3 separate regions of the Homo sapiens genome follow, and all the other regions are linked to region 3. The links come from fine-mapping of genetic effects on gene expression. A gene starts in region 3. Each other region holds a variant in brackets. All regions are shown on one strand. Distances are from middle to middle.

Region 1 (4,348 bases), 170 kb after region 3:
CCAAATTCATTCATTCAACAAACATTTACCACACACCTGAGTTTGGCATTGTGCTAGGCACTAGAGACACAGTGACAAGACAAACACAATCCCTAATCTTATGATGTGTATAATCTTGGGTTTATCATGATGATGAGTATTCAGAATGAGAAACAGGGAGTTCTAGATGGGAGTCAGGGACATCAACTAGGCACAGGAATTGTAATGGGAAAAAGGAGAGGGGGTCAGGGAGGACTTTCCAGAAGAGGTAAGGTTTAGATCTGAAATACAAGTAAGAATCAGATAGGAACAGTGTGGACAGCAAGAGCCAAGAAAAAGAATGGAAATTTTGAGGACTGAAATGAGACCAGAATGGAAGAAACAGAGATGGAAAGGGAAGATGGATGCAGGCAGAGCTAGAGAAACTGACAATGCCATAATCACACAGTATAATAAGGACGGTATTAAACTTTTTAGACCTTATCCTAAAAGCAACATGAAGCCATAGAATGATTTTTCAATCAGAGGAGTGACATCATGATCACTATGGCTATATTGTGGATGAAGAATTGGAGAAAACCAAGGGTCGATGTGGGGAAACAGAGGGCTGGAGTAGTTGGTCAGGACACAGTGTAGTAAGAAAAGATAGCCTTGGATGTGATGGCATATATGAAAACGGTTCCTCAACTAATACTACTCTATTCAGTTAACCTCAACTTTTCTCAGACTTTTTTTTGTGAAAATAATCATAACACACTTTTCAGACTTTTCCGTGAAAATAAATGAATCATACCAGAAGCCATTTTTTACACATGGGAATAAAAAAGTCTTAATTTTTTCAAACTGACTAAGTATTTCAAACTCTGCTATTAGGAATATAACACTGCACTTGAAGCAGAAAATATCATGAGCTCATAGACTGCATTTCAGAATAGACACATTAAATTATTAAATAAAAAATAAGCTTTATAAGGACATCAGCTGTCACTTACTGATCATTTGCTATGTGCTAGGTCATGTACTTTACATGCTTTTTTTTTAAGAGATGAGGTCTTGCCCTGTCACTCAGACTAGAGAGCAGTGGCACGATCATAGCTCACTGCAGCCTCAAACTCCTGGGCTCAGGAGAATCCTCCTGCCTGTAATCCACCTGTAAATAGCTGGGATTACAGGTGCACCTCCCAGCTATGTTTGCATTCTTATTTAACTTTCACCCCAATCCTAAAAAATAGGCACTATTTATTATTATTACTATTATTTAAAGATAATAAACTATGGCCAGGCGGGGTGGCTCATGCCTGTAATCCCAGAACTTTGGGGAGGCCAAGGAGGGCAGATCACTTGAGGTCAGGAGTTTGAGTCCAGCCTGGCCAACATGGTGAATCTCCACCTCTACTAAAAATACAAAAATTAGCTGGGTGTGGTGGCACATGCCTGTAGTCCCAGCTACTCGGGAAGGTGAAGCACAAGAATTGCTTGAACCTGGGAGGCGAAGGCTGCAGTGAGCCAAGATCGCACCATTGCACTCCAGCCAGGGTGACAGAGTGAGACTCTGTCTCAAAAAATACAATAAATAAATAAATAAATAAATAAATATAATAAACTATATTCTGGGCTGGGTGCCGTGGCTCCTGCTATAGTCCCAGCACTTTGAGAGGCTGAGGTGGGAGAATCACCTGAGCCCAGGAGTTCAAGACCAGCTAGGCAACACCTAGGCAACACAGTGAGACCCCATCTCTACAAAAAATTTTAAAAATTAGCCA[G/A]GCATGCATAAAAAGGAACAAAATAATGGCACTGGCAGCAACCTGGATGGAACTAGAGACTATTATTCTAAGAGAAGTAACTCAGGAACAGAAAATCAAACATCGTATGTTCTCACTTACAAGTAGGAGCTAAGCTAGGAGGGTGCAAAGGCGTAAGAACGATACAGCGGACTTTGGGAACTCAGGGGAAAGAGTGGGAGGCGAGTGAGAGATAAAAGACTACACATTGGGTACAGTGTACACTGCTTGGGTGATGGGTGCACCAAAATCTCAGAAATCACCACTGAAGAACTTATTCATGTAACTAAACACCACCTGTTCCCCAAAAACTTATTGAAATTAAAACTAAATTTAAAAAAAAATTAGCCAGACATGGTGGGATGCTCCTGTAGTCTCAGCTACTGGGAAGGCTGAAGCGAGAGAATCACTTGAGTCCAGGAGGCTGAGGCTGCAATGAGCCGTTATAGTGCCACTGCACCCCAGCCTGGGTGACAGGGTGAGACCTTGTCTTGAAAAAAACAAAACAAACAGAAAACAACAACAACAACAAAACTATATTCTGGGTCATAAAACAAGTCTTAATAAATTTAAAAACATTCAAGCCATAAAAAATATGTTCTCTAAATTGAGATTAAATTAGAAACCAATAACCAAAAATCTCTAGAGAATTTAAAAATATTTGGAAACTAAATAACACATTTCTAAATAACCCAGGATCAAAGAATAAATCAGGAGGTAAAATAGTATTTTGAACTACATGAAAATGAAAACATAGTATGTCAAAATCTGTGGGATGACACTAAAACAGTACTCAGTGGCAATTTATAGCATTAAACTCCCATATTAGAAAGGAAAAAAGGTCTCAAACCATGGCCTCAGCTTCCACTTTAAGTAGAAAGAAAAGAGGAAATTAAGCCCAAAGTAAGTAAGAAAAAAAAATAAAGATCAGAGCAGAAATAGATGAAATAGGAAACATAAAAACAGAAAGAAAAATTAATAAAACCAAAAGCTGGTTCTCTGAGAAGATCGATAAGATAAACCTCTAGTCAGACTAATCAGGAAAAAAAGAAAAGACGTAAGTTACCAATATCAAAAATGAGAAAAGTTATACCACTACATTCAACATACTAAAAGAATAATAAGGGAATAGTATAAACAACCTTTTGCCAATGAATTTGACAACTTAGATGAAACGGACTAATTCCGTGAAAGACAAGCTACCAAACCTCACTTAAGAAAAAACTGGCTGGGCACGGTGGCTCACGCCTGTAATCCCAGCACTCCGGGAGGCCAAGGCAGGCGGATCACCTGAGGTCAGTAGTTTGAGACCAGCCTGGCCAATACGGTGAAACCCGTCCCTACTAAAACTACAAAAATGAGCCAGGCATGGTGGCGTGTGCCTGTAATCCCAGCTACCCAGGTGGCTGAGGCGAGAGAATCGCTGGAACCCGGGGAAGCAGAGGAGACAGTGAGCCGAGATCGCGCCACTGCACTCCAGCCTGGGCAACAGAGCAAGACTCTGTCTCAAAAAAAGAAAAAAAAAAAAAGAAAAAATAGATAACCTGGCCGGGCACGGTAGCTCATGTCTGTAATCCCAGTGCTTTGCAAGGCTGAGGTGGGAGGACTGGTTGAGTCCAGGAGTTCAAGACCAGCTTAGAAAACATAGTGAGACCCTTATCTCTACCAAAAAAAAATTAAAATTAGCTGGGCATGGTGCGGTGGCACACACATATAGTCCCACCTACTCAGGGGGCTGAAGTGGGAGGATCGCTTGAGCCCGGGAGGTAGACGCTAAGTGAGCCATGATCACACCACTGCACTCCAGCCTGGTCGACAGAGTGAGACCCTGTTTCAAGAAAAAAATAATAATAATAGAAAAAATTAGCCAGGCGTGGTAGCACACACCTGTAGCCTCAGCTACTGGGGAGGCTGAGGTGGGAGGATTGCTTAAGGCCAGGAAGTCGAGGCTGCAGTGAGCTGTGATTGTGCCACTGTACTCCAGCCTGGGTAACAGAGTGAGACCCTGATTTAAAGAGAAAAAGAAAAAATACATAATCTGAATAGTCTTATGTCTATTAAAGAAATTGAATCAATAGTTGAAAACCTTCCCACAAAGAAAACTTCAAGCCCAGATGGCTTCACTGATGAATTCTACCAAACATTTAAGAAATAATACCAATTCTAGACAAATTCTTCTAGAAAACTGAAAAGAAGGGGATACTTTCTAACCCATTCTATGAAACTAGCATTATCACAATACCCAAACCAGAAAAATGCATTAGAAGAAAACTATATACTTACATCCCTCATGAACATGGATGCCAAAATTTTTTTAATTTAGCAAATAAATCTAACAATATATGAACAGAATAATGCATCATGACCAAGTGGCAAAGCTAGTTTCACATTCAAAAATCAATCAATGTAATTGACCATATTAACAAACCTTAAAAAAAAAGATTATTTCAATAGGTGCAGAAAAAAAATTACATTTGACAAAATCCAATATACAATCCAAAAACTCTCAGCGAACTAAGAATAGAAGGGAACTTCCTCAAACCTACAAAGGATATCTGTTAAAATTTACAGACATCATCATACTGGTG
Region 2 (4,348 bases), 210 kb after region 3:
CTGTCCCCTGCCCACAGATGTAGGACTGGCCAGCTCCAGATGCCCACCCTTCTGTCCTGGAGAAGCTAAGGCTGGAATCCTGGGGAACAAGAGTCTCCTGGGGCTGTGTCAGATCTGTGCCGGCTCCTCGCCCTCTGGCCCCAGGGCCCTGAGGCCCTCACCCAACGCTCACATTCATGACTGCGTTAATCTCTGCAACAGCCTCATCATCCGTGGGGAACTGGTAGATCTGGACCCCGTTGCTGACCAACTCGCCCATGATCTTGATCTTGAACTTGTGGAGCTCGCTCTTGGAGATGGTGTCAGCCTTGGCGATGATGGGAATAATGTTCACCTGCCAGGATCAGGGGAGGGGACAGCAGGCTGGTTGGCTCTTTTGAGCGGTGGTTCCCATGCCATGCCCAGGATATGGATAGACATGCCCAGGCCATATCCCTGGGCAGGGGGAAGGAGGCCAGAGAGATGGAGCCACTCCCACGGGCAGCCATAGTGCAAACCCAGCCACCTGTGGCCATTCTGATGAGTTTCAACAATTGGCTGCAGTGCTTCTTACAGCCCTGGTTCCCCCAAATCACCATCCAGCCCCAAAACTGGTCCCCCTAGGCATACCCAGCTTTGACCCAGAATCCTTTGAAGGTCCTAATTGGCCTGGGGCCTAACAGAAGGAGTGGTGGGGGGGCTATGCTCCCCACTAAGCAGGTAAAAGGACCCATCAGCAGTAGCCATAAGAAGATCCCAAAATCTCCCAGGCCCAGGCTATCCCGTTTTTTACAATAAAAATGAACTCCTGAGATGGGAGGGCAGTCACGTGAGAGCTGACAAGGGATGTGGGGTCACATGCCCTTCAAGATGCACAGCACTTCCAGTCCTTCCCATGAAGCTGCCTCCCTTCTCTACCCCTACAGTACCCACCCCTCATTCACATCCCATTTCTGGGCCTTAACTCTCCTCTCCCTGATGGGCTCAGAAGGAACCAAAGGACATTTATGTCAGGGAGGAAGGGGGAAGTGAAAGGAGGAGCTAGAAATTAGGAATTGAGAGATAGAAAATGAGCAGAGAAGAGGCTGAGATGGGAAGGGAGGTTCCCTGGAGCGAAGGGGAACAAACACTATCGGGAGCGGGAGGGGCTGACAATGAGAATGATTCAGCTGCAAGCAAGGGGCTCAGGGTCAGACCCAGGGCACAGGACTCTGGAGAATGAGCCCAGAGCATTGGGGGCCACTGGAGCAGGAGGAACAGACGCAAGACAGAGAGAGGACCGAGCCAATGGGGGGCCACCCACAAGCCCCCGACCAGGTCCCTGAGGACCATGGTGTTCAGGCATGAGGCAGCCACCACATCGCATCGCAGCAGAAGACTATGGAGCCTGTGACAGCAGGTGGGGACAGGGATACCTTGCTGTCTAGTTTCTTCATGGTCACTAGATCTAGAGACTTCAGGGAGTGCCCTGTGGGCGTGATGAAGTAGAGGCAAACGTGGATCCTTGTGTCATGGTAGTCGAAGAGCGAGCGGCGGATCTTCAGCTCCTCCTGCAGATAATTTTCAAACTGCGCATCGATGTAGTCAACTATGGGCCTGTAACTACAGACAGCTCCATCACCCAGGAGGCTGCCAGCTGAGATCAGGGGCTTGGGGCTTGGGGGGCTCAGGGCTCGGGGCCAAGCCAGGCTGCCCCCTGGCCTTTTCTTTCTGGGAACAGCTTCTGCCTGAGATCCCTGACTGGATACAGGCAGCTGACCCCTTCTCCAGACACCTAAAGGAGTAACTGGTCTGTTGGTGACCACAGAGCCTCAGATATTCCCCAAGAGGCCCTCCCTGGCCCCCTGCAGTGTGAGGGCTGGGCTACTGTTATAGGGGCCAATGTAGGTGGGGTGGGAGGAGGCTGGGTGGGGCCGCCCTTCCCGCCTCTTGCCTCTCATCCTTATTGATCTGATCCCCAAAGCCCACGGCATCCACAATGGTCAGCTTGAGCTGCACGTTGCTCTCCTGGAGGTCATAGGTCTGGGGCCGCAGGCGCACGCATGCCTCATGGTGACTGGCTTCCTCAGTCTCGAAGGTCGTGTTGAAGAGTGTGTTCATCAGTGTGGATTTGCCAATGCCGGTCTCCCCTGGGCAGTGAGGACAGGAGGGGAAGAAGTGGGTGTCATAGGCTGGAAATGGGCTGTCCTTGACTGGTGGCTAGGCCAGGCAGGGCTCAGGCATCCATGGCCCCTGGATAAGAGAAAGGGGCAGGCCGCCCACCCCATCCCTCATCACCCCCATTCCCCAGGAACTATCTTTTCCTGTGGCCTCAGAAATAACCTGTGGAAGGAAGAGCCAAAAGGTGAACTTGGACAGAAGACATAGCTGTGTGTGATATGTGATGTATTTCCTCAGGGAGCAGGGAAGAGACAGAGCCAGGCAGCTGTGTAGACACCACTGCAGACCCAATCACCTCACACATAACCTGCTCTACACAACACCCCTCCTGGGACCAGGGTGGTCATGGGACCAAGAGGGCCAGGGTCTAAAGCCACCAGTGGCTCAACCCATGC[G/A]CCCCGGACAGCCCTAGCTCCACATGGCTTTAGCTGGGGGAACTCAGGATGGGCTGCTTCCCGAAGGACACCTGCAGAGGGACCAGAAGAGCACTTTGTGTCCTTCTGGGAGTCCCAGGGAACCTCCGAGAGCCTCTCTGCTTGGGGCTGTTATTTGTTCACATGCGTGCTGGAGCACTTACCATAGGATATGGTGATGAGGGGCAGAGCTGTTTACCATAACGTCCTTGACACAGGGTGGGAAGCAGTAAATGAGTACATGTTTTTTAAATGAACAAACAAATGAATAAATGAACCTAAATCTCTGTGATAAACACCCACAGTTTACAAAGCACTTTCATGTGCCCGATCCAGTTTACTCTTCATGACAATGCTGTGTCAGGCCCTGGCTCTAACTCTATCCTTGACTCTGGCAGAGACACCAACCAAATCCTCGTCCTGACACCCCCAAAGTTTCACTCTGCCTGGGAAGCCCCCTTGCAGCTCAACAGGGGGCCAGAAGCACCCCCTCTCCCAGGAGGTTCTCACCCACCCTCTGTCTGAGGCCAGGCCCTGACACTCACCCACACAGAGGATGTTGAAGCTGAAGCCCTGAGTGACCGACTTGCTGACCAGCTGGTCGGGGAGGCTGTCGAAACCCACATGGCCGCCCAGGGAGAGGCTCCGGGGCTCTGGCTCTGCATTCTGCCAAGAGAGAAATAAAGCAAGACATGAGCCCACTGGGGAAGAAAGGTCAAGCTGCGGGGTGGGCGCTAAATCTGAGTTAAAACAGTGAAGCAGCCCCACCCGATGTCTGAATTCTCAACAAATCTCAGACACACCCTGAGTACACCCGAGCACCAACTCCAGGCCAAGTTTCCCCAGAGGGAGCCCGATGCCCCCAGGGGGAAAGGCCCTTCCACTCTGTAGCTTTGCTCCACCTGGGATGGCCAGGGATGCCTGGGCTGAGGGCTCCATGTCTCCTGGCATAGGTGGCCCCAGGGGCTGTGGTTGCTACCCATAAGGGCCCACCTGTTTTCCTACTCAGGAGGAGGCCCCAGATGGTCCCAGAGGACCAGATTGGAAAGTGTGTCTGTTCCTGCAGCCAGCTCTAGGAGACGGGGGATGCTGCCCCTGCCTAGTCCTCCCAGGCCCTCCCACTGATGCAGGACTCAAGTAGGGCCACGTCTGGTCCAAACCCCTCACAAGCATGCTCCCTCAGAGGAGCCTTCTCTATCAGCTGGGCTCGTAGCCCTCCATGTTCACCCCTGCTCCTCACACACCCACGTGTGGGACTCATGCATGGACCCTGCTAAAGGAGCCGGCCCTCACTCACACAACCCCCCCGTGGGGCTCAGGGGTGGGTTTCAAAGGGACTGAGACTCTGAGGCCTCCTCCCTTCTGCCTCAGTGGTATTCTCTAGAGACCCCCAGCTCCTGGCTCCTGACTCCTGCCACCCTTCCACCCCCATCTCAGCCCTGGTTGTCTAGACAGAAGGTTCCGGGTAAGAATGTGGAGGCCTGGCCTTAGCAGAGGGCTGAGCGGCAGGCCCCGAGTGAGCTGGGGCCACTGGAGGTGGCCCACCGCTCTATAAAAAGAAACCACGAGGACCCAAAGCAGAGGGTCATGGTCACACTCCAACTTGTGTGGCTGGTTTCTCTGACTCCCTGGAATGGGGTAAAATGCTGCCCGAGGGAAGGTTCCCAGGTTCAGCCCCTCTGGAGGGCAGACCTTAGGCAGCTCCATGTTGTGCAGAGTCATGCCTCCTCCATTCCTGAGCCCCACTGCCCTGAGACAGCTAGAAAGAGGAAGGAGAGGAAGGGGCAGCGGATTCA
Region 3 (4,000 bases):
AATGGGTAGTTTGTTTTGCAAAGTGAAAAGATTTGTAGAGGTTGAAAGGTGGTGACGGTTGTACGTGAGTATACTTAACACCACTGAAATGTACACTTGGTTAAGATAGTAAATTCTTTTTGAGACGGAGTCTCGCTCTGTTGCCCAGGCTGGAGTGCAGTGGTGCGGTCTCGGCTCACTGCAAGCTCCGCCTCCCGGGTTCATGCCATACTCCTGCCTCAGCCTCCTGAGTAGCTGGGACCATCGGCGCCTGCCACCATGCCCGGCTAATTTTTTGTGTTTTCAGTAGAGACGGGGTTTCACCGTGTTAGCCAGGATGGTCTTCATTTCCTGACCTCGTGATCCACCCGTCTCGGCCTCCCAAAGTGCTGGGATTACAGGCGTGAGCCACCGCGCCTGGCCAAGACAGTAAATTTTATGTGTATTTTACAATTTTTAAAATAAAAAAAGGTCTTTCGTCTTTTCCCATTGTTTTATTACATTTGCTTTGCCAAGTAAGACATTCCTATATAATTTTAATGTTTTGTTCCATTAGTTATTTTAACTATTTTGTAATAACTGACACTTTCCGGTTTTTTTTAACCTGGTACAGCAAGAGACTATTTCTCACTGGTCTTCCCCACTTGCATCCTTTGGCACATACATTTATGTATTAGGTTCTGTAAATTATTTGCTTGGGATTGTATGACTGGAGAAACATTTCCTACATTTTTCCAAGGCAGGCAGAGGCAAATTATACCACTACAGTAATTCCAAATTTGTGTTTCATTTAAATGTCCTCCACTATTGTTTCAGTAATTTTTATGTATGTTTCTCTAGGCCCTTAAATGTGATATCCCTCCATTAAGTTTGTTTCCAAGAAAGCAATATTCTCAGTTACTTCTGAGACAGGTAACTTCTCTTTCCCTTATTTTTAAAGATATCTATTGCTGGGAGCACTGATCGGAATGGATTACCTCTACATTCTTCATATTTGCAGACTGCTTTTAGTTTTAGTTCCCAGACTTTTGGTCTTAAAGACGCCTTTACACTAAAAAATTACGGGGGACCTCAAAGAGCGTGTACGTGAGTTATAATTATCAACATTTACTCAATTAGAAATTAAAATTGGTATTTCTAAGCGCAAGAATACACATGCGCACATTCCATTAACCGCCACTGCAATGGCGTCATCACATGTTATGTGATCACTGGAAATTACTACACGAACGTTAGAGAGAGAATGAGAATGAAAAGGAAAATAGTTTTGACACGAACTGACCCCGCTTCCTGGGTCTCCAATCCACCCCACCACTACCCCCATTCCAGGAGTCCCAGGATCAAGCTTTGGGAAGCGCCATCCGTCACAGGTCTTGGTCTCCCCTTCCAAAAGTCAGTGCCTCTCCAGGCTGCCCATCCCCAGCAAAGATCCGGAAGTCCGCTGCCCCTGGCAACAGCACCCAGCACCTAGCCCTCTGCTTCGCCGTACCGCACCCGGAAGTCGGAGCTGCGCACGCACCGCGGGACTCTGATTTCCCGGCGTGCCCCAGGAGAGCGGCGTGGACGCGTGCGGGCCTAGAGGCCCACGTGATCCGCAGGGCGGCCGAGGCAGGAAGCTGTGAGTGCGCGGTTGCGGGGTCGCATTGTGGCTACGGCTTTGCGTCCCCGGCGGGCAGCCCCAGGCTGGTCCCCGCCTCCGCTCTCCCCACCGGCGGGGAAAGCAGCTGGTGTGGGAGGAAAGGCTCCATCCCCCGCCCCCTCTCTCCCGCTGTTGGCTGGCAGGATCTTTTGGCAGTCCTGTGGCCTCGCTCCCCGCCCGGATCCTCCTGACCCTGAGATTCGCGGGTCTCACGTCCCGTGCACGCCTTGCTTCGGCCTCAGTTAAGCCTTTGTGGGCTCCAGGTCCCTGGTGAGATTAGAAACGTTTGCAAACATGTCCCGGATCGAAAAGATGAGCATTCTGGGCGTGCGGAGTTTTGGAATAGAGGACAAAGATAAGCAAATTATCACTTTCTTCAGCCCCCTTACAATTTTGGTTGGACCCAATGGGGCGGGAAAGACGGTAAGTCTTCAGTAGCCGCCTTCAGTTTACAGGTCGCTACATCTTTCGGAGAATAAAATGGGAAGTTGAGAACTCTCCTTAGGAGCAGAAGCGTCCCTAGGGCTCCACAGGTGTAGGCCCTTAAAGTGCCTTAGGGTGTGGCCTGCAGGCTACAGCGACCTTAGGAGTTTGCCTGAAGCAGTCTCGGAAGGATGTCCGGACCTGGCCTGGGGACAAGGTTTACTTAAGAATCCCACGATACCGGGAGCTGTCGCCGCTCACTCAGAGTTCAGTTCCCACTGGATGCCCTTTGGTCTGTATTGATGTTTTTAACGCTGTCTCCTTGCTTTCAAAGCATAGCATTCACTTCCCAGTAGTTGTCCCATACAAGAATTCCTTTAAAAGTTATAAAATGATACATACATGACTAAAGAGTTTCCAAGTATGCCAACTGTCCAGACATAATACATGGAAAATAAATAAATTCAAAATGTAACTGATGTAGTGGGGCTTAACTTGGAAAACTTCTCTTCTTAAAACTCAGTCAAAAATTTAACGTTGGTGCACGACTGACTTTTTTTTTTTTTTAAAGCCGTGGGAATATTTATAAATTTGAATGGAAAGAATAACCAAGAGGCATTCTGGTCAGGAATAGTGGCTTAAGAAAAAGCAAGACGATGTCAGTATAGCAGGGAGAAGAGTCTAAAGGAAGGATTTGTGAAGAGTGTAGAAAGAGAGAAGGTTGAGAATTGAATGCCAAACTTGTTTACTTTTGTTTTTGTAAAAATGTTATTTGTTGAATGCTTGTTATGTACTTAGGATTGTACTAAATACTAGCAGAAGGGAGAGTAGTACTGTATAGTGTTTATGAGGACTGGCTGCCTCAATACAGCTTTTTCGCTTCATTTATTAGTTGTCTGATTGTTTGCGAGTGACCTCACTGCTCTGTGCCTTAGTTTTCTCATTTATAAAATGGAGATTAAAAATAGTTTCTACAGCTGGGCACGGTGGCTCACGCCTGTAATCCCAGCACTTTGGGAGGCCGAGGCGGGTGGATCACCTGAGGTCAGGAGTTCGAGACCAGCCTGGCCAACGTGGCGAAACCCCATCTCTAATAAAAATACAAAAATTAGCCAGGCGTGGTGGCGCATGCCTGTAATCCTAGCTACTGGGGAGGCCGAGGCGGGAGAATCGCTTGAACCGGGGAGGTGGAGGTTGCAGTGAGCCGAGATCACGCCATTGCACTACACCAGCCTGGGTGACAGAGGGAGACTCTCTCCCCCCACAAAAAAAAAAAAAAAAAAAAAAAAGTTTCTACAGGCTGGGCATGGTGGCTGACGACTGTAATCCGAGCCGTTTGGGAGGCTGAGGCTGGGGGATTGCTTGAGCCCAGGAGGTCGAGAGGTCGAGGCTGCAGTAAGCCATGATCATGCAGCTGCACTGCAGCCTGGGCAGCAGAATGAGACCCTGTCTCTTAAACAAAAAGTTCCTACAGCCTGGAGTTAATGTGAGAATTAAATAAATGTATGTAAGAGTGCTTAGTACAATACAGTACTTAACTGTTAGCCATTCTTATTATTAACTTAAATTAGTTTAAAGGGTTTCAGTTGAAAATAATTATTTTTTTCCCAAGTAACAATTCTTCATATTAGGATAACTTCTTAGTTATATAGCATTTCTGTGAACTTACAGCATTAACACTTAATCATATTTTTATTACAGGTTTTATAATGTCAGATTTTATCTTTTATAGTTTCCATGATAAATAATATTTTTGTAATGAATTCATATTTTATGGTAAACTTCTGTGGTTCTCTTATAACGAAATAATGTAATTTTCTATTTCTTTAGACCATCATTGAATGTCTAAAATATATTTGTACTGGAGATTTCCCTCCTGGAACCAAAGGAAATACATTTGTACACGATCCCAAGGTAATGGTGCTAGTACAATTTTGTATTTTTATAATTATAAAAATG

Evidence for each region.
Region 1: its variant is fine-mapped to the expression of RAD50 in monocytes (TOPMed, PIP above 0.99).
Region 2: its variant is fine-mapped to the expression of RAD50 in lung (TOPMed, PIP 0.98).

What each region holds. Positions count from the first base shown.
Region 1 is chr5:132,727,199-132,731,546 of GRCh38, forward strand. The region is part of intron 2 of KIF3A (kinesin family member 3A); the gene reads right to left. Among named protein-coding and RNA genes, the nearest start is that of KIF3A, 8.2 kb to the right of the region's middle. The variant G/A (reference allele first, on the strand shown) is at 1,743.
Region 2 is chr5:132,762,312-132,766,659 of GRCh38, forward strand. It overlaps SEPTIN8 (septin 8), which reads right to left. Exons shown (of 10, transcript NM_001098811.2): 2 at 3,098-3,218; 3 at 1,913-2,108; 4 at 1,395-1,581; 5 at 173-334. Among named protein-coding and RNA genes, the nearest start is that of SEPTIN8, 13 kb to the right of the region's middle. The variant G/A (reference allele first, on the strand shown) is at 2,535.
Region 3 is chr5:132,555,413-132,559,412 of GRCh38, forward strand. It overlaps RAD50 (RAD50 double strand break repair protein), which reads left to right and starts at 1,565. Exons shown (of 25, transcript NM_005732.4): 1 at 1,565-2,041; 2 at 3,872-3,955. The coding sequence starts at 1,913. It also overlaps a transcript of IL5 not described here. RefSeq lists an enhancer at 1,188-1,848.